4 linked regions of the Homo sapiens genome follow. The protein of the gene in region 4 interacts with the protein of the main gene of each other region in a pairwise test. Each region holds a gene or a part of one and is shown on either strand. Other genes may lie near its edges.

Region 1 (7,034 bases), on a different chromosome or scaffold from region 4:
AGACTGTATGTAAAAAATATTTGCATTGTGGTACAAATCTTTTATGATTGCTGAAAATTATTCTTAGCAATTGATGGTAGAGCTCTGATGTGAAATCATGTTTAGGAAAGCATTCCTTGCAGTATTACAGTTTTCTGAAACACAGCACTATGGGTACAAATGTCATAAAAAGCTCCAAGAAAACATTTCAAAAGTGTTTTTGAATGTATTTCTTTACCTAAACCTAAATTTTTATACTCATGGCCATTGCTTCTTTTATTAAAATACAGTTAATAGCATCAATCACTAGATTGCTTAAAAATGCTTTTCTTATTGTGCATTAAGTTATTTCTACCCTTTTGAGGGTTCTATTATATAAGATACTTTTTTGTGTGCTTTACGTAATGAATTGTGCAGTATTTCATGGAAGCATCTCCTTTGAATTGTAGGACATTTTATAAATGTAGAAATTAAAGTCTGTGCTTATAACTCTTTCTGCACATTTAAAAAATAGAGACTTTTAATTATTTGCTTTTTTTCATCATCTGTCAATTAAGTGATTTTCAGTTATACCAACTGGAATTGAAATGCGAATGTTAATACCTGAAAGGTTTTACAGAAAATAAGTGAGTAAATCTTGCTTTTTGAAATGATCTTTGCATTTTATATTTTAAATATCCTTCTGAAATTGCTGAACCATAAAGTCCCATATTGATGTCAGTATATGCAAAGAAACTACTTTTCAACATTAACTTTTAATCCATTTTCATTTACTATCTAACTGACATTAAAGAGGATCTTACTGCAAAAAGAAAAAGGATGAAAATGGATAAAACTTGCAGCAAAACAAAGAACAAAAGTAAACATGCTTTGAGAAAAAAGCAACTTAAAAGGTATGACTGTTGGCTTTTTTGCATAATGATATTTATATCATTTCTTTGTATTAGTTGGTGCAAATAATTTCAAAAACTATCCTGTACATATTGGCGTCTCTAGTGAACAACATATTTTACTTGATTGTTCTCTAAGTAGGTAAGTTTCTTTAGTTTTATAACCTCAGTTTAACAGAATTAAGAGATATTACCTAGAAGCCAATGAAGATGACCTCTTTTTGCCTTCCAGATAAAAATAGCCTTCTTGTAAAATTAATGTTTATCCATTTCTAGAAATATGGTAGCTGCATATAAGATAAATGTTCTCAATGTTTAGTCTGTAGATCCTTAACGATACTCAATTATGTAGAAAGGGATAACCTTATGTTGTAAATAAGTTATCTATTTTAGTTAAATTGTTTTCACTATTTCTTTTACAAAATCATTGGTGTGCCAAAGTGGAGAAATAGTTAAGTGAAGTTTTTCTTTTGGGAAATCTTATGGGATGAATGGCTATGATATTCTTGAACCTACTTATGAGAACCCATATGTTATTCAGTAAGAGGAAATGGAAAGTAAACTGCTCTTAGAGAAAATGTTTCTGGGAAAGTTATAGTGCAGTAAACCCTCCTTTGTCTTCAGCAGGTAAAGAATGTAAGATAGCTGCTCTAGTAGTCAGGAAGAAAAGAATCCTTTCAAAATGAGAGTAACTCATTTCACTTTTTTCCAAAAAGAAGATTTCAGCTGCTATTACTCCCTTGCTACTTTATAGTATAAATTATGTCAAGTCAGTTTGGGTTTGAATAGGATTAATTTTTCATCTCTCTATGACGTATGACCGTGTTACTTATTATGTGTTACAGGCAGAAACGTGATTATATACATTCTCTGAAGTTGCTAAATGTCCTTGAAGAATACATCACAGACGAGCAGAAAGAGGAAGAAGAAGAAGAGGGAGAAGAGGAAGAACTAATTGTTGGTATCATGCTTAGCTTTATGTATAACCTGTTATGTCAGTGTCTCAGGTAGTAATAGTTCATGCAGAAATCCAGCAAAGAAGGAAGAGCGCATGAGCCCAGAGAGGGGGGCCCGTTAGTGGACTAATGGACTAGGGGAATATAATTGCCACGCAGCATTAGGGGTCCAACTGAAGTCAGCATCATAACGATGAAGAAGTTAAAGTAAGCCCAGTTGGCATATTTGTGCAAGCACAGCTGTAGGGTTGGAATTTCCTGGGTCGGGGTGTAGCCGAGCAGATTGATAGAGGGAGAGTTGGGCAGGGAATAGATGCAGAGATGGGGATATGATGACTGGCTGTGGAATTTCAGCTGGGACTGAGTTATCTGAGCACACGGGAGTGGGCAATGGGCAGTAAAAAGTGCTCCATTCAGTGGGTGTCAGGTCCCAACAGACTCCTGAGCTGTAGTACTGAAGTGAGTGACCTACGATGGCAGGGAGGTAGTGGCTGTATGTTGGGAAGTTGGAGAAACAGCTGAGTGCAGTGGTCAAGGGCTGGGACTATGCATCCACACTGCTTGGGATTCTAGCTTGACCATTGCTAGCTCGGAAACCATGGAAAAATTATTTATCTCAGCTTGACCATTGCTAGCTCGGAAACCATGGGCAAATTATCTTATCTACGAAAGGAGACATGGTAAGAGTACCTACGTCAGAGTTGTTTGGAGGATCAAAGGGTTTCTGTGTAACAGGTTTATTTAAGTTTTTCAGGATGTGATCTGACCCATGGTTGCTCTTTATCATTGCTATTATTAATATTACGTAGGTGTTGAAGTCATTGGGAATGACAAAATCTAGGGGATGACTGTGTGAGTGAGTGCCACGTAGAGGAGAGGAGAACACTGTTGTTGGAGATTAGGTCAGGGTGCAGAAAGGCAATCATTATTGGGTGGTTCATCTATGTGCATATTGAAATGACCGAGATTTAATACATGCTTAAAATCTTAGAAAGAATTTTTCTTAGTTAATTTCTGTATAGATCTTACCTATCTGTGGTCAACAAATTATAGGAAGGTTCATCAAATACTCTTCATTGGAAATCAAGAATTAGGACATATGTGTTGAATGTGTAAAAGTAAGAAAATTCTTTACTTAATGACTGATAAAAAAGGTTAATACATCATTTTAGCATGTTATTGGTGAACACAATTGTTTAAAATTGGTCCTAAATGTTGTCTAAAAGAAAGTGTTCAGAGGTATTGATTTAAACAGTATTCCTTTAAAGCTAATGCAGAATTATGTTTTGTAAGTATTAAAATTTACCCAATTTTTATCACTATTTTGTTTTGGGATTCTAGAGAATATTTCAAGAACAACAGAAGAAGTGGCAACAATATAGAAGTGTTAGGAGAGAGAGGCTGAAAGAGATGAAGCTGCTACGTGACCAATTCGTAAAGGTCTGTTCTATTTGGTAACATAATACATTATAAAATACAACACGTGCATAATAGAAGACAGTCTGCTTGTTTCTGAATGTATGGAAAGACATTTGATTATACATTTCAAATTACTTAGCATTTTCACTTTGAATGTATTGTTCCAGATATAATATAATTGGTAAATGTATTTTTAGGATTCATGAATAGTTTGTGGGAGTTATTTAGAACAGGAAAAGGTAAATTGGAAATTTTACCTAGAAATACACATCTTATGTATAAAATTGACACTTTATTAACACATTAACCTATTTATGCCAGAGGTTGCAAATTTTTTTTGTGTGTGAAAAATCAGACCTTGGCCATGACCTTGAGCAGTAGGATATATATGATTCCCACAAGCTTAGCGTTCCAATAATGGAACACTAGGCATAAATGGGTTTTAATGAAGATTTTATTTTCAGTTTTCAGGACATCAATGACAAATCTATGGTGGAAGGCAAGAGGTCCATAAATCCTTTCTGGATGGCTTTTTTACTTGTGTTGTTTCAAGAGTTTTAGTTAAATAGGAAGTAGGCAAGCGTAACTACTGTGTGTCTTTTTTATTTCTTGCTGAAACACAGGAGTGTTTTATGGCATATTCACTTACAAAATTATTAGTAATGGTTCTACATGACAATTTGTAATCATAAGAGATGGTTCAGATGTATAACAGAATGGGAAAGCCAGCAGATTATTAACACGTTGTGAATTGCGAATTATCTGCTGTTGTACAGCACATTAGCAAATTATCATCAGACAATGACCTCTTCTTCATGTAGATGTAGATAATTTAGGAAGCAGTGGAATCTTTTTTGGGGAGATCTGGTATTCTTTTTAATAACCTTGGAAAAGACATGTTCATATGTCACTTCTCTACACTAACTGAGATGTGTTAAATAAACTGGGAAAAGAGTTTGAAAATAAAATTTTCAAGCAACTTGAGGATTATCTATACACAAACAGTTATTTAAATAGAAGTTACAAGTAGAGAACATGTTGCTATAATGTTCTCCAGATACCATTTATTAATTGGTATGAACATGAGACTAGTAGTTTTCCTGTCAGTATTAATGTTTCATGTTACCACTTAGGTTAGGAACTTTGCTATCATCTTGGACTCTTCTGAGTTCATTATCCTTCCCATGTAGTTATCACGAGGCAAGTTTTACCTCTGCAATGGTCCTTTAATTTCTTTCTTTAAATTCCCACTGCGGCTACCCTAGTCCAAGACCTCATTCTTCCTTACCTGTACTATTAAACTCTTTTCTGAGTTCTCTCTTCTCTTCTGAGCCATCCTTCATTGATTGGCAATATTATCTTTCTAAAACCCTTCCCTTCCTAAAATGCTTCCCAGCCCTTCCGTCTTCCCAGCCTGTCAGTGATGCCCCGTCTCAGTTCTTAGATATTCAGAGACTCTCCCCTTTACATGACCCCCTCTTAGGCTTGTTTTGCCGCCTTCTGTCTTTCCTCCCACTTCTCCAGGTTGACCGCCTTCCCTGAAGGAACTCACCGTTACTCCCATGCTTTGCTCATGCTCTTCCCTCACAATACTTTTAAAATCTTTTTTTGACTGATTGAAACCTTTCGCCAACTAAATCAACATCAGTCTCCATTTTTGGCTACATGCCCGAGTGAGTTGCCCTTCCATAGCAGTTACACAAGTTTTGTATTACTTGTTTTTTATTTGTGCATTTGCTCATGTCATAGAAATACGGAAGATTGTGTATTCATTTTTTACATCTTCCTCAGCATTAACCTACAACATTTTAGGGAGTAGGAACTGTTGAACTATTTGTTGAGTAAAGAGTATATATTTCAAACACAGTTACGTTTTCTCTAACTTGATGAGGTCATATCACCAACCATTTTATCCCTTCAATGGAAACCATGTTATGTAGGCTATTGCTGATAATACATGGGTCGCTACCTGCTGAAAAAAAATATAATATTTCATGATATAAGCCTGCCCGTCTTTTTCTGTCTTCGCTCCATCTTGACCTTAAGATGTTCTTCAACCCATTTTATTTAAGCAAAGTACATGACTGTTAGACCTGCTAAAATAATATGTCACTGAAATCTGGCATTAAAAAATTTAATTGGGTATTTGGAGCTCCATGTATTGATTATAGTTTTTTCTATTTGAAATGAATAACTGGCATCCTTTGAATATTAAAAGCTGTTTCCTTTTGACATTTAATTAACCCTGTTTAAAATGCGAGATATAAAGTGGTGGTTTGTCAGTGAACTAGACTTTTTCTTTTAGGCTCTTGAGGACTTTGAAGACCTTTGTGACAGAGTTTTTTCCGATGAAGACAGTGAACTTGATAACTAGACATGTTTTTAAATAAAATCATGTCAGAACTGTAAGTAGTGCATATTTAATATTAAAAACTCAGGATTGATGTAGCACTGGAATATTTTATTTGCAGAAATGTGTATTACAGTTACTTAAATTTTTTTTTGAAACAGCTTTTGGAAAAGTTGGCACTTACCCAGTTGTCTCTTCAACCTCTGTTATTCTGATGACTGAAGAAAGAACTTGAACCTATGTTATATGATACAAGCACAACTTGAGCTACAGTAAACTACATGACAGTGTTTTGATAATTGTTGTATAAATCGGTATAGCTCCTCTGTCACTCGTCTGTTAAATGCCAGACCTCGTTTCTATGATCTGTTGAATGAATCCTAGACACTTCTGTGAGAAAGCAGGGATTGCATAGTTATGTACACGGTCAATTAAATTTTAACATTAAAGATAATTTAGATTTCGATTTGGCCTCTGTGGATTTGTATCAGTTCCAAAAATGTAGAAAGCACAGGCATAGAAAAGTACATTTTTCTCTAATAAAAGAAGACAATATCTGCTGGGTGTGGTGGCTCACGCCTGTAATCCCAGCACTTTGGGAGGCCGAGGGGAGTGGATCACTTGAGGTCAGGAGTTTGAGACCAGCCTGGCCAACATGGTGAAACCCCATCTCTGCTAAAAATACCAAAATTACCCGGGCGTGGTGGCACGCACGTGTAGTTCCAGCTACTCAGGAAGCTGAGGCAGGAGGATCTCTTGAACCCGGGAGTTGGAGGTTGCAGTAAGCCAAGATTGTGCCACTGCACTCCAGCCTGGGCGACAGAGCAAGACTCTTTCTCAGAAAACAAGAAGAAGAAGACAAAAGCTATCTTATCTGTGCGTTCTTTTGTATTTACTCATTAGGATAAAGAGGCAATTCCAATGAAAGTAGGACTTCAAAAAATAGATATACTCTATGGCCATATCAAAATTATTAAAAGCACCTTACTGTCTGTGTTCTTAAAAAAAATTATACTGCTGTAAATGATTAAGGCAACTGAGCAAGATATATTAATATCAGTGCTGAGCCACTGGTTTGTGGGTATGTCATTTCCACAGACATCAAAATGCTATTTAGTTTGTTTTGGTCCATCATTCAATGATACCTCCCCTTAGAATTGAATGAAAGCATTTTGTTAACATTTATGTATGCTTACAATTATTTCACATCTGTGGCAAGGTAAATTTTGTAGAGTGCTTTGTTTATCCAGTTTAATATTCGTGGATTATGTGGAAGTTTATATGGACATCTAAAAACTTGAATGATGAATTCGCCTGCCTTTCCTTTTTTTAATGTGCAGTTTTCACATGTAACAACATATAACAAACATGTAAAAAGATTTTTTGCATGTAACATGTTAAAAAGATGTACATGTTTTTACATGTAAAACAATTTTACAT
Region 2 (7,034 bases), on a different chromosome or scaffold from region 4:
CACTGTGTGGCTCATCCAAGTCAGTGACCTTGCTGTAGCCTTGGGAATACCTGTTCTAACCCTCTCACTGGTGGCAGATGGGAAACTGGCCTCTGTGAGGATCTTGCTCAGGAGTCGCTTGTAGGCCTCGAAGACAGATTCCCAGGATCGACCTGGTCTTGCTTCTGCTCACAGTGCTGCCTCCTTCATGAGCCATTCGGCCTCCTGTGACCCAGGAGGCATTAGCAAGACCTCCCCCAGGCCTGGCCTCCTGGCCGTGTGTCTGCTCAGCCTCTCGCCACCTCCCTCTACCTACCTCAGGTGCAAGTTTGCTTAGAATGAACAGACATCATAAAATAGTATAATTGATTTTTTTTTTTTTTTGAGACAGAGTCTCACTGTGTTGCCCAGGCTGGAGTGCAGTGGCGTGATCTCAGCTCACTGCAACCTCTGCCTCCTGGATTCAAACGATTCTCATGCCTCAGCCTCCCGAGTAGCTGGTATTACAGGTGTGCGCCATCATGCCCAGCTAATTTTCGTATTTGTAGGAGAGAGAGGTTTTAGCTATGTTGGCCGGCCTGGTCTCGAACTCCTGGCCTCAAGCGATCCACCCACCTCAGCCTCCCAAAGTGCTAGGATTACAGGCATGAACCACCAGCCAATAAAATAATAGAACTGGCCGGGTGCGGTGGCTCACACCTGTAATCCCAGCACTTTGGGAGGCTGAGGTGGGCAGATCACCTGAGGTGAAAACTTCCAGACAAGCTTGGCCAACATGGTGAAACCCTGTCTCTACTAAAATACAAAAATTAGCCAGGCATGATGGCGGGTTCCTGTAATCCCAGCTACTTGGGAGGCTGAGACAGGAGAATCGCTTGAACCCGGGAGATGGTGGTTGCAGTAAGCCGAGATCGTGCCATTGCACTCCAGCCTGGGCAGTTGAGTGAGACTCCGTCTCAAAAATAATAATAATCATCATCATCATAGAATTGATTTTTTTAAATTCAATTTTGTTTTTATCAAAGTGCCATATGACTTGCCTCTACCAAGTCAAGAGCATTAAAAGCCCTGTATCAAATAATAGCAATCCACTGCCCTTCCCCTGGGCACCTCACCCGGCTTTCTCTGTCTCTTCATGCATGGGCTTCCATTTTTCTCAATAGTCTCACTCTGTCGCCCAGGCTGGAGTGCAGTGGTGCAAGCATGGGTCACTGCAGCCTTGATTTCCCCAGACTCAGATGATTCTCCCACTTGAGCCTCCAAGTAGCTGGGATTACAGGCACGTGCCACCAAACCTGGCTAATTTTTGTGTATTTTTTGTAGAGACGGTGTTTTGCCATGTTGCCCAGGCTTGTCTCAAACTCTTGGGTTCAAGTGATCCACCCGCCTCAGCCTCCCAAAGTGCTGGGATTACAGGCGTGAGCCACCGTGCTCAGCCTATCCTGTTGTTTCTTGATCTATCACCTGTAAATATCTATTGACTTTGCCTCGTCTGGTAGATGAGAATTTAGTTCTTCCCATGACCAGTCTGTTTCCTCTCATCCCACCTTTCCAACATAGTTATTTTTCTATTTTTGGCTAAATTAATATTAGTACAACGGAGATTTTGTTCGGGAAATCTTTTCCAGATGCCTCCTAGGCTCTGTTGTAGGCACTAGGGATAAAAGAATAAGAAAGCAAAGATCCTACTCTTGCGGAGCCCTCATTCTAGTCAAAACAACTCTATGTTTAACTTTCTGAGGAATCTATGTTTCTTTTCTTAATTCAGCCTGTTCTTGTGTTTTGAGAGGGTGGGGGTAATTTCCTGTTTTGTTTTTTTCATTTGCACTCTCCTTGTTTTCTCAGTATGTTTTCCACAATTTCCCATCTTTTTTTTTTTTTTTTTAAATTAAGTCTTGCTCTGTTGCCAGGCTGGAGTGCAATGGCGTGATCTTGGCTCACTGCAACCTCCAGCCCCCGGGTTCAAGTGATTCCCCTGCCTCAGCCTCCGAAGTAGCTGGGATTACAGGCACGTGCCACCACGCCTGGCTAATTCTTGTATTTTTAGTAGAGACGGGGTTTCACCATGTTGGTCAGGCTGGTCTCGAACTCCTGACTTCAAGTGATCCACCTGCCTCGACCTCCCAAAGTGCTGGGATTACAGGCGTGAGCCACCATGCCCGGCCCCATTTTCTTCAGTCTGTTTTCCGCCCTGTAGTCTCTCCCCCTTGTGCCCTCCCCCTGCCCCTGCCCCTTCTCTTTGGATTCCCCCATCTTGGGGGTCCCTTTCCTGGTTTACTCCCTGATCTCCCGTGGAGAATATCCTCCTGTAGCTTTCTGAGAAAGGGCACGTGGGATGTCAATTTTTTGAGACCTCGGGTCTGTCTTTTTTGGTCATTGTGGTTCCCATATTCCTTTCAGTTGACATTTTGGCTCATTCGATTCAAGAATGAACGTCAAGGTTGACAGTAATTCCTGTGTGGAAGTGTGATGGCCTTGTCACATTGTCCTTTGCTGTCACATGGCTATTGCCATTCTTATTGGTGATCCTTTATTTGTGATGTGTTTTATTTCTGATCTGTGAGAACTTTGAGGACTTTGTTTTTGTCCCTGGTGTTGGGAGGAGTCGTGATGGTAGCTGCAGGCACAGGCTTTTGTTTATTGTGCCAGATCCTCAGAGGGCGTCATCGGGAACACCATGTCCTTCTTGTCATGTATCTCGATGATGACATCCTGCTTTCTGTATTCTCTGTTCTGCTTTTTTCTATTTTTTTATTGTGGTAAAATTTACCATCTTAACTTTTTTTTTTTTTGAGACAGGATCTTGCTCTGTCGCCCAGGCTGGAGTGCAGGGGTGCGATCATGGCTCACTGCAGCCTCAACCTCCTGGGCTCAAGCGATCCTCCCACCTCAGACCCCCGAGTAGCTGGGACTACAGGCACGCGCCACCATGCCTGGCTCATTTTTGTATTTTTTTTGTAGAGACAGAGTTTTGCCATATTGCCCAGGCGATCTTCCCACCTCGGTTTCCCAAAATGCTGGGATTACAGGTGCGCACCACCGTGCCCAGCCCTTGGTCTATTTTTGAATTAGGTTGTTTGGTTTTTGTTGTTGAGTTTTAAGAATTCTCTACAAAGCACAATCGGCTAAGAGGAAAAAAAGAAAAAAGAGTTTTAGGAATTCTGCATATATTCTGGATATTAATCCCTTATCAAAAATGTGATTTGCAAATATTTTCTCCCATTCTGTGGGTTGCCTTTCTTTTCTTCTCTTCTCTGTTCTTTTTTTTTTTTTTTTTCGAGACAGTGTCTCACTCTGTTGCCCAAGCTGGAGTACAGTGACGGGATCTCAGCTCACTGCAGCCTCTGTTTCCCAGGCTCAAGCGATCCTCCCACCTCAGCCTCCCAAGTAGCTGGGACTACAGGCGTACACCACCATGCCCAGCTAATTTTCGTGTTTTTTGTAGAGACAAGGTTTTGCCACATTGCCCAGACTGGATGGTGTATTTTGATGCACCAGTTTTAAAATTTTTATGAAGTTCAATTTGTTTATTTTTTGTTACTTGGATCTTAGGTGTCACATCCAAGAAATTACTGTAAACTCCAATGTCGTGAAGGTTTTGGACTAGGCATTTTTCTGAGTTTTATAGTTTTAACTTTTACATTTAGGTCTTTGAACAATTTTGAGTTAATTATTATTATTATTATTATCTTCGAGACAGAGTCTCGTTCTGTTGCTCAGGCTGGAGTGCAGTGACATGATCTCGGCTTACTACAACCTCCACTTCCCAGGTTCAAGCGATTCTCCTGCCTCAGCCTTCTGAGTAGCTGGGACTGCAGGCGCCTGCCACCATGCCCAGCTAATTTTTGTATTTTTAGTAGAGATGGGGTTTCGCCATGTTGGCCAGGTTACTCTCGAATTCCTGACCTCAGGTGATCTGCCTGCCTTGGCCTCCCAGAGTGTTGGAATTACAGGTGTGAGCCACTGCGCCTGGCCTTGAGTTAATTTTTGTATGTGGTGTTAAGTAGTGTCAACTTCATTTTTCACATACCATTGTTGAAATGACTGTCCTTCCCCATTGAATGTTCTTGACACCCTTGTCAAAAATCATTTGATGCCGCCGGGCACGGTGGCTCACACCTGTAATCCCAGCACTTTGGGAGGCCAAAGCAGGTGGATCACCTGAGGTCGGGAGTTTGAGACCAGCCTGACCAACATGGAGAAACCCTGTCTCTACTAAAGATACGAAATTAGCCGGGCGTGGTAGCGCATGCCTGTAACCCCAGCTACTCGGGAGGCTGAGGCAGGAGAATTGCTTGAACCCGGGAGGCGGAGGTTGCGGTGAGCGAGATGGCGCTATTGCACTCCAGCCTGGGCAACAAGAGCGAAACGCCGACTCAAAAAAAAGAAATCATTTGACTATGTATTTGAGGCAGGAGAATTGCTGGAGCCCAGGAGTTCAGTGCCACAGTGAGCTGTGATCACGCCACTGCACTCCAGCCCGGGTGGTGAGACGCTTTCTCAAAAAACGAGAGCAGAGGGTAGAGTGGAAGACAGAGCCAGGCAGTGGTCAGGTGTCTTCCCAGGTTCCATCTTAGCCCTCCCTTTCTTCCCCCACCACTCTCCTTATGCACCCACAGGTATTTGACAACACCCCAGCAGCCTTGGACGGCACAGTGGCAGCTGGCGATGAGATCACCGGTGTCAATGGCAGGTCAATCAAAGGGAAAACTAAGGTGGAGGTGGCGAAGATGATTCAGGAGGTGAAGGTAAGGGCTGCTGCAGAGCAGGTGTCCAGAGGCAGCAACACATGTTTCTGAGACCTCCAGGCTGCCAGAGGTCCCAGCAGGCCTGGAAGGGGGTATCAGCCCTCACCGCCCCCTTCCTTGTCATGTGCAGGGTCAGGGTCACACTCCAGCCTCCCTCATCCATCCCTCATTCATTCAATAAATACTAATCGTGCTCCAGGACTTGTGCTGAACCTTGGCAAGAGAGTGGGCAGCAAGACCACAAGGTCCCCATGAGCTCCCAGGGAGCTGACAGACTTGGAACCACCCCTCAGGCAAGCCCATGTGTCCCCAGTCAGTGCCAGAGCTGAAGCTAAAAGTCCAAGGTGATCCTCCCTGGGTCAGTAGACACCCAATAATGTCAGCCGGGTCACGCTGGGCCTGTGAGGGCTAGGAGGGAAAGAAGAGTGCCCTTTCCCCATCCTGTAGGAACTTTCGGTCCCACACAGCCTCCTGGGCTCATAGACACCCAGAGACCCCCCTCCCAGGCCAGCTGATCTTCTGCTCTACAGACCAGAGTCACACACTGCCTGCCCCGCTTTCCCCCACCCCTGCCGCTCCAGGACTGGAATGGCAGGCGGCATCCCGGCCTCTCCTGAAGCGAGCATGCAGCCCCTTTGCCATTTCCTAGCGAAGTGGCTGCTAGCTAGTCTCAGGAAACCAATACTGTGAAAGAACTGATGTGCAGGCAGTGCACAGCCATGGGGTGATTTGAAAGTCTCGGGGGCAAGGGTCCCCACTGTGAGTTCAGCTTGGCCAAGGGTGGCAGCTACCTCCCTCAGCCCCACTTCCATCCTCCGGGTTCTGGCACTCCTGATAGTCCGCCTTCCTGCCTTAACCCAGGCCAGCCGCTGCTCCATCCTCTCTCCCCTTTATCCTCCTGTCCTGCTCCTGAGTAGTCCGTGCTTCTCTCCTTCCTTGCTGTAGGAAGAGTCCCATCCTGCACATTCTCCTATTCCAGCCCCTTTAGCCATAGGACAAATCAGGGCCTGGGGCTGGGGCTCAGAGCTCTGTTGTAAAAAAAGGAAGCAGCAAGGTTCATTGAGACCCCACAGCTGCCACTCCACGTGGTCTGGGTATCACTGCCTCAGGTATGACCTGTTAGGCAGAGGAGCTGATCATGGGAACAGGTGCAGGGGGTCTCGTTCTGGCCGAGTTGGGTTGTGTGTGCCCCATTTGGCAGCCCTTCCCCCCTCCGCATCTCCTCCCCATCTCCACTCGCCAGGTCCCTCCCTGTCCTCTCAGGCTTGGTCATACCAGCACCTCAGGTTGCCCATGAGGACAAGAGCTCTTTGTATTTGCACACAGCCATGACAGGGATGCAGCATTGGCCCAGCTCCCCTGTTTGGGTGCTGGGCAGGGATTACTCTCCCATCTTACAGGTGTCCACAGGCGGGGAGTGACCTGCTTGTGGTCACACAGCTGAACTGGAGCCCGGGCCCGACTCCCACTGCAGCCCGCTTGCCGTTGGCCTACAGCTGCTCCCTGTGGGGTGGCCCCTGAGCACGCCTGTGTTTCATTCTGCGGGAGCAGTTCACACCCCACCTCTGACTCTGATTGCATCTGCTCATTTTGGTTTCCCTTTGGGACTTGATTTTAAAATCCTGTTTTATATTTGGATGAATGTGGTCCCAAGTTCAAGGGCTTTTGGTTTGCAAGGATGAGAGTGAACACAGCGCCCTCCCGTGCTCAGGCAAGTCCTCTTGGGAGAAGCCTTTGTCTCCTGAGCAGTCGTTAGAAAGTGGTTTGTGTAATTCCCTGATTCGCATCAGCCTTGCGGGGCTGGGGCTGCCCCTGCCCCTCCCCTTGGTGCCCCAGCACCAGGCACAGAGCAAGTGCTCAGATGTGCTGTTCGATGAGTAGAGGGATTCCTGGGGATGGGGTGTTTTGGGGTGGAGGAGGGAATAATCAGTGTAGGGAAATGACACGGCAAAGGCTTGGAGTGTGGTTTGCGTGGGGAGGGAAGAAGGAGAGCCTGACCTGGCCGAAGCACAAGACATCAGAGACCGCCAGGCTGTGGGCCCGGTGCCGGCCCTGTCCCCACTGATTCCCCAGGGCTTGGATGTAGAGTAGGAAGGGAGGGGCCTGGGATCAGACAGGGTCACAAGGTGGGGCCATGTCACAGCGCTCAGCCTGGCCCTTACTGGGGCTTAGGATTCTTTTTTTTTTTTTTTTTTTTGAGACAGAATCTCATTCTGTCATCCAGGCTGGAGTGCAATGGTGTGATCTCAGCTCACTGCAACCTCCGCCTCCCAGGTTCAAGTGATTCTTTGCCTCAGCCTCCTGAGC
Region 3 (7,034 bases), on a different chromosome or scaffold from region 4:
CTCCATACTGATGTTTACTGTTGTCTGAGGCAGGAGGAAGCTGGCGGAGAGCCCCGGGTCTGTGGGGTGCTTTTGAAAGAGTCCAGTTTCCCCTCGGGTGATTGGGAGCCTGTCACCGTGGGACCTGGAGCACCAACTTGCAGATATTTTCTCTGGGCTGTTCCGCTTCTTTAGGAAGGCCCCTTTGCTGGCCGTGGGGGAGTTAGCTCTCCTGTGCGGGACCGACTTGGCAGGTGCGGGTTTGGCCTGCCCGCAGGGCTCTGCGAGGCTTGGAGCCCCACGCCTGTGCCCCCGGTGCTTTCCCTCTGCCCTGATCGGGTCCTCTGCATCTGTCAGGAGTGTGTTCTTTCTTGTGGGTTGATAACACCCTATTAAAGATGATGTTAATGGAGTGAGAGGAGGTCACCCGTACGGCCAGTCACTCCCCTTGAGCAGGAATTTGCAAGCCTGTTCTATTCACTCCACCTTCCTGCTTCCTTGTGGCCTTGGTAATTGCCCACAGTCAACGGGGTGAGGTGCCAAGCCGCCGTTCCACAGCCGCCTCTGAATTGCAGCGTGGGCTGGTGGCTCTGGCCCTGTGGCCTTGGAGGGCTGCCAGCGTACCTGGGCAAGGCCCGGCAGACCCGTGTGGTAGCAAAGACCCTGACTTTGGCTCCTCGCTGGGTCAGTGTGCCAAGCGGGCCGTCTGCCCTGCTGGGGTCCAGGAGGGCCTGCAGTGAAGCAGTGGTGAGCGTACTGGGAGCATGATCTTTCTGCATGGTGGCTGACTGTCACTGGGAGGTTGTGTGTAGTGCGGTGGGCTCTGTCTGCCAGAGCCTTGCCAGCCGAGCGTCCAGGGGCCAGCTGTGTCCATCAGCATCACTTGGGTATTTGTGAGAAACGCACACTTTCAGGCCCTACCCAGGTTCTCGTGCAGAATCAGACTGCAGCTTGGTCAGCTTTTAATTTTCAGATAGTTTTTGACTTTACAGAAAAGATGCAAAAAATATTTCACTGAGCTTCCCTGTTGTCTTCATCTGCTTCCCCTGATGTTGACGTCTTATGTAACCAGGCATCCATATAAACGCCAGAAAGTTCACAGCATTATTGCGTAAATGACAGACCTTATTCGAACTTCGGTTTTGCACCAGTGTCCTCTTGCTGTTTCGGGATCCCCTCCGGGACCCCACACTGGTGCGTGTGGCCGCCCTGTCTCCTTAATGTCCTTCTGTCTGTGATATTTACATAGTCACAAAGTATCTCCCCCAAGATACACGTCACAAAGGGAAAAATAAAACTGTAGCCTCTCGGTGGAAAAACCCAGCAGATACTGTGTGAAGCAAGTGATCGGGGTAACACCATCAGTCATAAGACGTTGACACCAAGGACCCAGTGAGACACATCACTTCTCTGGCAGTGTTGCCAGAAATGCAGTCTCATCATGAGAAAATGCTGCACCCAAACTGAGGGATGCTCACCACAGTCCTGGCCAGTGCGTCTCAAGTGTCCAGGTCTTGAAAGACAGGGAGGCTCAGAATTTCCTGCAGGCAGGTGGCCAGGTGATGTGTGTGCACCCTGGTCCACACGGAAGGCCTTCCCACAACCTTGAGGGAGGTGAGGGAGTAGGGGTTTGGGGGCTCCAGGCACAGGTGCTGGGCAGTGGGCCTCAGTGGTCTTGCAGCTCCCCCGTCAGGATTGTTAGCCTTTGGGTTCCTCGTCTGCAGTGATACTGTACAAATCCCAAAAACTCCAGTTACACGATTAAGTGATTGACATGACATGGAGTCGCAAGGCTGACTTGAAAATGACTGTAACTCACAGCACCAGTTTAGCCACTGCAATCTAGAGAAACTAAACATTTCCTCATTTTGAAGGAAAGACTTCTTGGGGAAAGTCAATTTGAGGGTTTGAATGAGAATGAGATGAAAGCTTTAGAAGGTCCTCCCTGTGCCTGAGGTAGATAAACATCTGTATTTTCTCTTCACACGGGTGACGGTGGTGAAAGCATGACATCATCTGACTTGGTCAGCAGAAGTGCTCTGAACCATCCGGAACTTTGGGGGCCTGGGGGCCGTGGGGAGGAGTTTCAGGAAGTTGAAAACAGTATTGGGTGGAATCACACACTTGCAATTTGCTCTGAAAAAGCTACACTTGTTTTGTTCTCAGCTGCACCTGGGGCCCTTCAGCCCCTGCAGGAGAAGAATGGGGCGAGTGATTGGTACGTGGCCTTCCCAGCCTGCAGAGCCGCCTGCTTTGGTTGTAATCATAGGCAAGCTCAGCCTGCTTTGGTTGTAGTCGTAGACAAGCTCAGGTTTCCGCCTCTGCACGTCCCGGTGGGCTCGCCTGGGACTCCCTTTGTCTGTTGTACAAGACTCCACTCTGGCCCCCCCTTTGGAAGAGACGATGTCTCCATCCTCAGGAAGTAGAGAAACACTCTCCGCCACCCTCCATCCTGACCCCCGTGCAGAGGATGAAGTGCTGTCCCAGAAGCCCCCTCTCAGGGGTGCCGTAAGTCTCAGAGAGAGGAGCACCCCGGGGCCTCCGTGGCAGAATCCTGTGAGTGTCTTTGGTTAAAATGTGCAGGAAGTGTTAACTCCTAAGCTGCCAGCAGATGGTGTGCCGAGATACTGTGAAGTCACATGAACTTGATTCCTGTTGGAAAGAACCACTCTGCAATCCTTCGCGTCTACACTTCGTCAAGAACCGTCCAATTTGATTAAACATTCTGGATCGTCAGCGTTCACGGTGGAGCAGACTCCACGACTCGCTGCTCCCATGGGAGGTGTCTCTCTGGGGAAGGGGTCAGTGGTGGTGGAGGATGGCGCGGTGCTCCATTCGGAACCCACAGGTCGCCAGCTTACAGCGTGGGAGCTGTGGAAGGACACATGGAGCAGAGGCGGCTGAGGAGGTGAAAGGCTGAGAGGAGGCTGCAGTGAAACACCTGAGGAAGGCTGGGCAGAATGGATCGGGGGTGTGTATTGGCTGCAGTCACCTCCCCTCTGCTCGTCTGTGTCCACATTCTGTCGTGGTTGAGACCGGATCCTGTGTGGACCGGGTGGGCTGGTGTGGAGTCCTGTCAGGAGACCTGGGGCGGTTTTGAGGCAAGCTCACGGAGGCCTGCCGCAGGGCCCTGCGCTGACAAACCTTTCGCTAGTGACCAGTTACCTTCTGTGTCTGAGAGAAGGCCGTTGTGGCCTGTAGTGATTTTCCTTTTCCCTTGAGATGAAAAGTCATCAAATATCTGGAAGCAAAGCTTAATCTTTCTGAAAGTAGAAACGCGTTTGGATGGAGCCGGGAGGGAGAACTGGGTGCGCGCTTGGCATTTCCTTGCCGGTGTGAATGCGCTTCCCGTAAATATGGCAGAACGCCTTCACCTTTCACCAGATGACGCGGGGGGAATTGGGCCACGGTCCCTGCTGTCATCATGGCATGCTGCAAGCTCTGTGGGCGCTGGTGGCCAGGATGCGGACAACCCCTGCCGCTACGTGTCCTCAAGTGAGCTCAGCTCTTGTGTCGGTGGGAGCTGGCGGTGGGTCCCTGAGCAGAGTGCTGCCGCTGCCAGTCTGCGTTTTCTGCCGAAATGCGTCCCTGAGATTGAGAAAGTTCACACCCTAAGTGTTTTTAGAAGGCTGGGTGCCCTGTTTCCCAGCCAACAGTTGTGACTGTCAGTGGGCAAACACAGTTTGCAATAATTGGCCTGTTGTCTTACAATTTCTGGCTCTCCTCTTTGTGGTGTAGGTCATGTTAGGTGGTGGTCCTTGGTCGTTTGTGCCACGTTCCCTCATGTTCTTGAACTCTGAGTCCCTAGAAACTGACATTGGTCTTATTTTGAGTGCATTATTTTTCAAACTTTGGGTCTGAACCCACATCAATTGAGTGGGCCATGGCCAGTGTTAAGAATACTGGATAAAATGGAGCATGCCTTGGATAAAAGGAGCATGGTTCGGAGTGGCTAACGGGTAGGTATCGACTCAGGAAACTTGCAGTGATGAGTGTATGAACTTACCATCGTAGGCCCCAGTCGAGAGCGTGGAAACCACTCTTCTGTGATGTGTGTCTACTAGCGGGTGGTTATGCACAGCATTTGACTGAATTTGGGTAACTCTGGATGTAGTGTATAAAGTACTTTTTAAAAGGCCATCCACTGGGCCAGGCATGGTGGCCCAAAGCTCCCAGCGCTTTGGGAAGCGGAAACTGGAGGATCACTCGAGCCCGGGAATTGGAGGCTGCAGGGCTGCAGTGAGCCATGATTGCACCACTGCACTCCAGCCTGGGCGGCAGAGTGAGACCCTGTCTCAAGAAAAAACAAGCAAAAACTATTCCCGTTAAGCCGCTTGCTTAGGGGTGACTGTGATTGAACATGTGGCTTCTCATCCAAGTTGATTTTAATCTCTATGGAGATCAGACTAATAACCTCACAGTAGAAAATCCACCAGTGAGCTCAGCGGCACAAACTCACAGCCCAGCAGTGTTTGCAGAGGGGAAGGCCCAGAATGCGTGGAGGCTTCGGGATCCATCCTTTGCAGACATAGAGAATTCTCATGGGGGAGGGAGGACCTTGCGGCGCCTTGGCAGTGAGGGGAGCAACCTCAGCATGATGTTGGCACGTACACTGGGGACTGGGTGGTGACACCGTGCATGCCCACAGGGGTGGAGATCTTTGTGGAGTTCACTGATGGATCCCAGAGGCCCAGGACGGGATGGCACGCTTTTCTGTGAGGGTCAGAGTGTAAGTGTTTCTGGCCTTGTGGGGCGTGGGATGTCTCGTGCCACTGTGAAGCCGCTCGACTCTGCTGTTGGGCTGAGAAGCAGGCACCTTGTTTGTGGACGCTGACATTTGAGTTTTATGTAATTTTCTCATCATGAAATATTGTTCTTTTGTTATTTTTCTGTTTTAAAATGTAAAACCCATTCCTGGCTCACAGGCTGCATAGAAGCAGGTGGAGAGCTGGGCTGGGTTGTGGGCCCTCACGTGCCACCCCCTGACCTAGAGTGTGTTTGCCCTGGGAAGGAATAAGACGAGGTTGTGTAGAGAGGCAGTGGCTGGATGGGGAGAGGCCTGGGCCCTGCACAGAGGAGCTGAGGTGTGAGGCTGCTTGCGAGGGAGGCGGCTGACCAGGCTTGGTACTAGCAGGCTCTCCGGGGAGGAGGCCCCCTGGAGGAACAGCGCTGGCGTCAGCCACAGAAGGGCTTAGCGGCCATGGTCTTCCTGCTGCAGCCCGTGTGGTTTTGGGAGGGACACATGGAGCATTGGAGGACAAAGAGACGGCCAGATCGGAGTGTGTGTGGCAGAGGGGCGATGCCACCCTTCGGAGCGATGGGTGCCAGGGTACTCGGTGAGAGCCCAGGTCCCGGGTGAGGGGGTGGGCTGAGGGGGAGTCAGAGAGGGAGGAGCCTCGGGATGCGGAAGGGCGAGAGCAGGGCGATGAGGGTGGGGCCGCAGGGAGGTGGCCGGGACTCCTGGTAGTATTCTTGGGGAGAAAGATAACAGGGAAGTGAGGAGGGTTCAGCTGTGGAAGTGCTGGGATGGCTGATCCGAGTGACCATGGCCTAGACGGGGTTTAAACCCTGGACTGAAGAAAGTGCCGGTGAGAGGTCAAGGCAGGAGATGGAGACCTGGGGGTGACAGGTGTCCCCGGCACCTCCTACCCCCACCCTGGGAGACAGTCCCAAGGGGCACCTTCACTGGGGGCTGGCCCTCATGCACACCAGCCAAACCTCCTGCCCACCTTCTGGGGGCTTCTGGAGCAGAGCAGAGGCCCCGCGGACCGTGAGGATGGCCACAGGGAGGGGAGATGCGAAACACTGGCCGTGGCAGGTGCCCACGCAGTCAGGAGCTTGCTTGTGGGGCTCTTGTCTGACACCTGGGAGATGAATTTCAGTCTGATGGTGGATCTGGACCCAGATGGCTTGCTTGGGATTCAGCAGCTCTTGGGAAGAGCCACACTTGAGGATGGGCTTGGGTGAGGGTTTGGAACGTGCTTAAAGAGGTTGGCAGGCAAGGATTTGGTGGTAGCAGGTGGGGCACATCGTGTATTGGCAGGGTTTTGTTATTTTTATCCTAAAGACATACTTATTTGCAAACCTTCTATTTTGGAACATTTTGAGATGTATACATATGTGGCAGAGATAGCATAGGGAGTGCCCTTGTGCCTGGTACCCAGTTTCTCCCGTTGCTAACAAGACGCATGACAGCAGTTCATGGCACAGTGTTGGGTGTGCCCCGGCCAACTCAGCAGATGAGCTGTTTCACAAAATCAGTGATTCTGCTCTGATAAAATGGCAAGTCCACGGAAAGCACTTTCATTGTATTTTGAAGTTGGGTGGTTGTTGAGGGATTATTTGAGTTGTAGTTGAACTAGCTGCTCTTTTCATGGAACACTATAAAAAAATAATTTACAGATTACTGACATCTCTTACTAAATGAGTGAAGTTAGCCTCTCACCTCAAAGAAGTCAGCTAACAGTGTTTGTTGCCAGTGATAAAGTTTGAGCTGTCAAGTGAAGTTGGAGTTTTGGAAAGTTTGTCTTTGCCACCGTGAGCCCGAGAGCTCCCAATAAATCAGATGCCAGTGCTAATGCTGATGAACCGTATGCTTTTGATATTATAGACTGAACAACATTTGCAAGAGCTGCCTAACTCGGTGAAGCAACATTTTCCAGATGGTCGATGCGGGATCACGCCTGGGTAAAAGATCCATTTAGAGTACAAGTCAAGCCAATGGATCTTAAAGCCATAAAGTGCAGAAGCTCATGGATACAGTTCACATTCCATATTGCAAACAGCCTTTAAGGAAAAATAAAACACACTTGTTGCGTGTTGGTGTGGTGTCAAAGAGGAATCTCCATAATTATCTGAAGAGCCTATTAAGATACTTTTCCCTTGTCTAACTGCATCTCCTTGTAAGGCTGCATTTTATTTTATTTTTTCGTACTTTTTGTAGAGACAGGGTTTTGCTGTGTTGCCCGGGTTGGTCTCGAACTCCTGGACTCACAGAATCTGCACCCCCCCGGGCCTCCCAAAGTGCTGGGATTACGGGCGTGAGCCACTTCCCC
Region 4 (4,307 bases):
CTAGGTGTTGTTTGGGTTTTTTTCTTGTTGATCATTTTTATTTTTTTGTTTGTTTGGGTGTTAATTACATATAAAAAAGATCCTCACCTGTCCCTCTAACAAAATAGAATTTAAAAGAAATCTTTGGCTTTCTCTAAGGTTACCAGTGCTCTTATAATTTCTCAAGTCAGAGAGTTGTTATAAGGTAGTTATTTTCTTGTTTATTTCCTCTCATGTTTCAGGAAGGGTTCTAGGTGGCTTTCAAGAATTGGTGAAATAAACTAGCCTGTGTTAAAAGAGGGATTAAATAATCAAAAAGACAGCAAGGGTGGGGGCAAAGTGAACAACGAAATCAGAACAGTGATCCAGGTGGCTGATCGCAAGCCCTCTAAAGGCAGAGATAATAAAGAGCTAGAACTTCTTTTTCATCCCTTTGTCTCCCAAGTGTCTTTCCCTGGTAGCTGCAGAGGTCAAAGGTCCCAAACACAGTGAAGAGCTGGACTTTCTAAAATCCAGTTGCTGTCAAAACCTCTCAGAAAAGCCAACCAGCAAGGCACTCATCTTTGCTGCCCCAAGGGACCAGGTTCAGGGAGCTGAGTCACAGAGGAGCATGCTTGGAAGCTGGCCAGCTCCACAGCAGAGCAGTTTGCCAGGCCACGTGCCACCTGCTTCCTGTGGCTCACGGCCTTCTGGCTGGCAAGCCCCTGTGGGCCAGGAAGCTCAGACCTAACCTGCTGTGGCAGGAGGTAGCTCTGAAGTGATTTGTCAGGAACTGTCCTCAGGTGAAGGGAGAAATGAGACAAGGCACTTTTGCTCCCAGAACCTGGCCCTTAGGGGACTGTGAATTGTGATCAGAAAATGGGAGAGAGGACATTTCTTTAACCTTGAGATCTCCCATCTGAGTTTCAGGAGCAGAACCTGAATCAACCAAGAAGGGTTAGCAGAATTGGGAAACTGAATGATAGACATAGTCAAAGAGTCTGGCTGTTGGGAAATCTGGTTTTCTGTAAGGCAGTGGGGCACTGTTCTACATGGGCAAGGATCTGCCTGCCTCACATTATCCCCCAGGGCTGTCAACCAGACCCCAGGCATCCTCTTTAGTTGATCTGGAGGAGATGCTCCTATAGGCAAAGGGGACACCAAAGAGAGCATTCGGCCTGACTCGGCTGTGCCACTGCCACTGTGCTACTTACCTGAAATCTTCCCAACCTCTCTGATGCCATTCGGCACTTCTAGTCAAAAGGATTTAGGCTAACATTTGGTATGAGGACATCGGAGAAGCTGATATTCACAAAACCAGCATAGGAAATCACTACCTTTTAAGGAAGAGATTCCTGTTACAGGCCACAAGCAGATCCCTAAGAGACTTCTCACAGGTTCCACTCCTGACTTAGAGAAGTGTCTGGGCTGTCTTTGCTTACCCAAGCCAGGCAGTGCAGCTGTGTATACTTCATGCTTGAGAATCCCAGCTGCAGCTTTGATAAAGTGGGAGTCCTGAGAAGACCCTTAGCCGTTTGAGTTATTAAACAGAAATCATCCCCACCAACCCTGAGAGCCTCTTTGGCCTCCCTTTTTTATTGGCTGGCCCTCACAAGATAAAGTGTTGCTAAAACTGCCCATCTTTCCATTATGCCTCTCAGGTGGAGGAAGCCTTGACTATCAAAAACACAGATATCGCCAAGGAGCTCTGCCTTCCTCCCGTGAAACTGCACTGCTCCAGTAAGTCTCTGCTCTCCATACCAGTCAGCTGGGACATTTGGCAGTAATTTCAACTTGGTTTGCAACAGTCCTTTTAGATCATGGAGCCCACGTTTGTAACCCTCAGAATTAGAGCTCATGAGTCTGTCCTTATAACCTGCAGAGGGTTAGAGCCCCCATGGTCTCACATTCATCCCTAAGAGAATCATGCCAGAAGGAGGTATGCACCAGCCATCATACTGAGCACTTCATGGGCGTAATTTCTAAACCTCACAAATATCCTTGAGTGCACAGTAGATGTCATTACTTCCCTCTTATGGATGAGGAAGCTAAGGCTTGGGTTGAGACGCCCACATCACATGGCTAATAAGTGGAAGAGCCAGAATTTAAGCTCCAATCTTTGATTTCAGAATCTGTGCTGTTTCCAGCAGAGGAGAAAACTCAGCTTTCGCCATAATCCTGTTTCCTGTGTATTTCTTCACTTCCTGTCTGGATGGTATTCCTGTCGGGGTCTGCATCTGTATATATGGAACAACTAAGCCCAGTTGTACAATGTCCCCCTCCCTGCTATCCTAAAAAAAAGCCCAGATGCCTTAAGACTTGTACTTGGCTTTCCAGTTTGGTCTCTGTATTAAATCTAATGCTTTTTCCATCATTTCTTAACCTTCTCAGGGAAAGAAGGAATGAGAAACATTAGCCTTAATGCATCGATGGAGGTTTACTAACCAAATTAGTTAAAAATCAGCAGAGAGTCAGGCCTCTTGCCAAGGTAATACTCACAGCAGAAGAGCCAGGTGCCGGGGCAGACACACTAACTCATTCTTCAGGAAGCCTGGTCAGACCTAAGTTCTTTCCACTTGATCTGGAATTTTAAGTACCCATAAAGAAAGGTCATCACTTGTAAACATTTTCACATGGTTTCAGGAAATCCCCAGCCCTTTTATTAGGCCTTTTTAGGTACTGAAACCTTTAGCTGATGTTCTCTGTTATTTGCTTGCTTTCTGCTGTCATTCCAGCTCTCTCAGTTTTTATTTTCCCCATAGCCTCACTTTGAATATTGACTCCTAAATAAAAGTGGTCAAACTCTCGATCACTAGAGGGTGATGTGGCAAATGCCATCCCATCAACAGATTGACATGATCTTTTTTCCAAAGGGCATGTCAACTTTTTTATCATGACAAGATTTTGTCCAAAGCTAGACTTTGATGGGAGCAGGCAAGAAGTAACATTTCCTGTGTCCCTACTATGTGTCAGACATCTTCTGTAAGTCCCCACACTATCCTGGCAAGAAAAGCATGATTATCCCAGTTCTATAGAAGAGAAAGTAGGGTCAAAGAGGCTAAGGAACTAGCCTGGGATCACAGATTTTTAACCCTAGTCTGTCTCCAGGATCACCCGCAGGAGTAACTCAGCTCAGGAAGCAGCTGCTGACGTGCCCAGCAACTCCTCACCCCAGCTTTCTGGCTTGGTTACTCCATTAGTCCCCACCAGCACCACTTCCTCCCAGCTCTTAAAGATTCTATTCCCAAGTCCATTTCTTTCACATCTAGAAACTTAGGCTTCTTTCCTTCCGTTACTTCCAGTGCTGGCTGAAGATGCAATCAAGGCCGCCCTGGCTGATTACAAATTGAAACAAGAACCCAAAAAAGGAGAGGCAGAGAAGAAATGAGCCCTCCCTCGGCGAAGCCTCCAGCAGGCCACACCAGCTGTTTCCCACCTGCTGTGCAGTCACCTTAGATGTTCAGAAGCCGCTTCCTCTCCACTGAAGAGCTATGAGATACGCACAATACTTGCTGTTCACGTTATGACTCTCATGCAAGCAAAATACACAGTTTCATTGTTCTGAATCCTGTGGTTTCTTTCAGCCCACTTTTATCGCCTTAACCTAGTTAATGTATATTTTGAATTGTGTGTATGACCTCAGAACTGAAATTGATAATGAAGTTGCAAGTTTTGATAGCCCGTGAAGTGCATAAGTATCTAATTTTACCTGAATTGATTTGGGGGGAAATTACCAGTAGAATGCCTTGGTCTGAATATTTGATAGAACCAATTGTTGTACATAAAACAGATTGCGCATATATATATATGTATAAAAAATAATAAAATAATGGAAGATGATGGTGTTCTCTAGTAAGCCTTGTCTCTTGGGCCCATCATTCACCCTGAAGTGGTGCCCAAAGCCCCTTGGGGTTCCCAGAGGTTGGACCGCAGTGACATACACAGCTCTCCAAGCAAACAAAGACAAATATACGTAATATTTTTTGGAACAAGGATGAAAGGAGATGATTATCGCTTGTCATTGTTCTTTGTGTGATAGTAGTTGAAAGCTCAAAGTAAGTCTTGAAGATTCTTTCTGTAATTTCACTGGTTGCTCAAATCTAAAAAGCATTAGCTTGGCACCCTAAAGCGGTAGACCAGATACATGAAGAGCACCTCGGGAATGAGTTTAAAATGCGGATTTCTAGGCCCAAGTTTCTGACTTCTGTCTGGGCAGGTAATTCCAGAGCCCCTGACTTTTAAGAACCTCTTGGGTTTTTTGTGGTCGTAGATGAGCCAAACTTTAGGGAAGAAACTTCTGAATGCTGTGTTCTGCATAGATGTAGTATCTTAAGTGGTTCATTCTGAAC

What was found.
Region 1: the proteins of ISCU (region 4) and FAM9B interact in binary tests that used the Homo sapiens proteins (3 or more experiments, as listed by UniProt).
Region 2: the proteins of ISCU (region 4) and PICK1 interact in binary tests that used the Homo sapiens proteins (3 or more experiments, as listed by UniProt).
Region 3: the proteins of ISCU (region 4) and BANP interact in binary tests that used the Homo sapiens proteins (3 or more experiments, as listed by UniProt).

What each region holds. Positions count from the first base shown.
Region 1 is NC_000023.11:9,024,099-9,031,132, reverse strand, and holds the end of FAM9B (protein FAM9B), read left to right. Parts: intron 1-536; coding exon of another isoform or gene 537-565; exon of another isoform or gene 566-772; coding exon 773-872; intron 873-1,714; coding exon 1,715-1,826; intron 1,827-3,166; coding exon 3,167-3,265; intron 3,266-5,549; coding exon 5,550-5,618; 3' UTR 5,619-5,649; intron 5,650-5,755; 3' UTR 5,756-6,901; downstream 6,902-7,034. UniProt on the Homo sapiens protein: May play a role in meiosis.
Region 2 is NC_000022.11:38,060,404-38,067,437, forward strand, and holds part of PICK1 (PRKCA-binding protein), read left to right. Parts: intron 1-4,598; coding exon 4,599-4,727; intron 4,728-7,034. UniProt on the Homo sapiens protein: Probable adapter protein that bind to and organize the subcellular localization of a variety of membrane proteins containing some PDZ recognition sequence.
Region 3 is NC_000016.10:87,954,427-87,961,460, forward strand, and holds part of BANP (protein BANP), read left to right. Parts: intron 1-5,444; exon of another isoform or gene 5,445-5,567; intron 5,568-7,034. UniProt on the Homo sapiens protein: Controls V(D)J recombination during T-cell development by repressing T-cell receptor (TCR) beta enhancer function. Binds to scaffold/matrix attachment region beta (S/MARbeta), an ATC-rich DNA sequence located upstream of the TCR beta enhancer.
Region 4 is NC_000012.12:108,565,571-108,569,877, forward strand, and holds the end of ISCU (iron-sulfur cluster assembly enzyme ISCU isoform 2 precursor), read left to right. Parts: intron 1-1,619; coding exon 1,620-1,698; intron 1,699-2,087; coding exon of another isoform or gene 2,088-2,134; exon of another isoform or gene 2,135-2,349; coding exon of another isoform or gene 2,350-2,402; exon of another isoform or gene 2,403-3,260; coding exon 3,261-3,346; 3' UTR 3,347-3,798; downstream 3,799-4,307.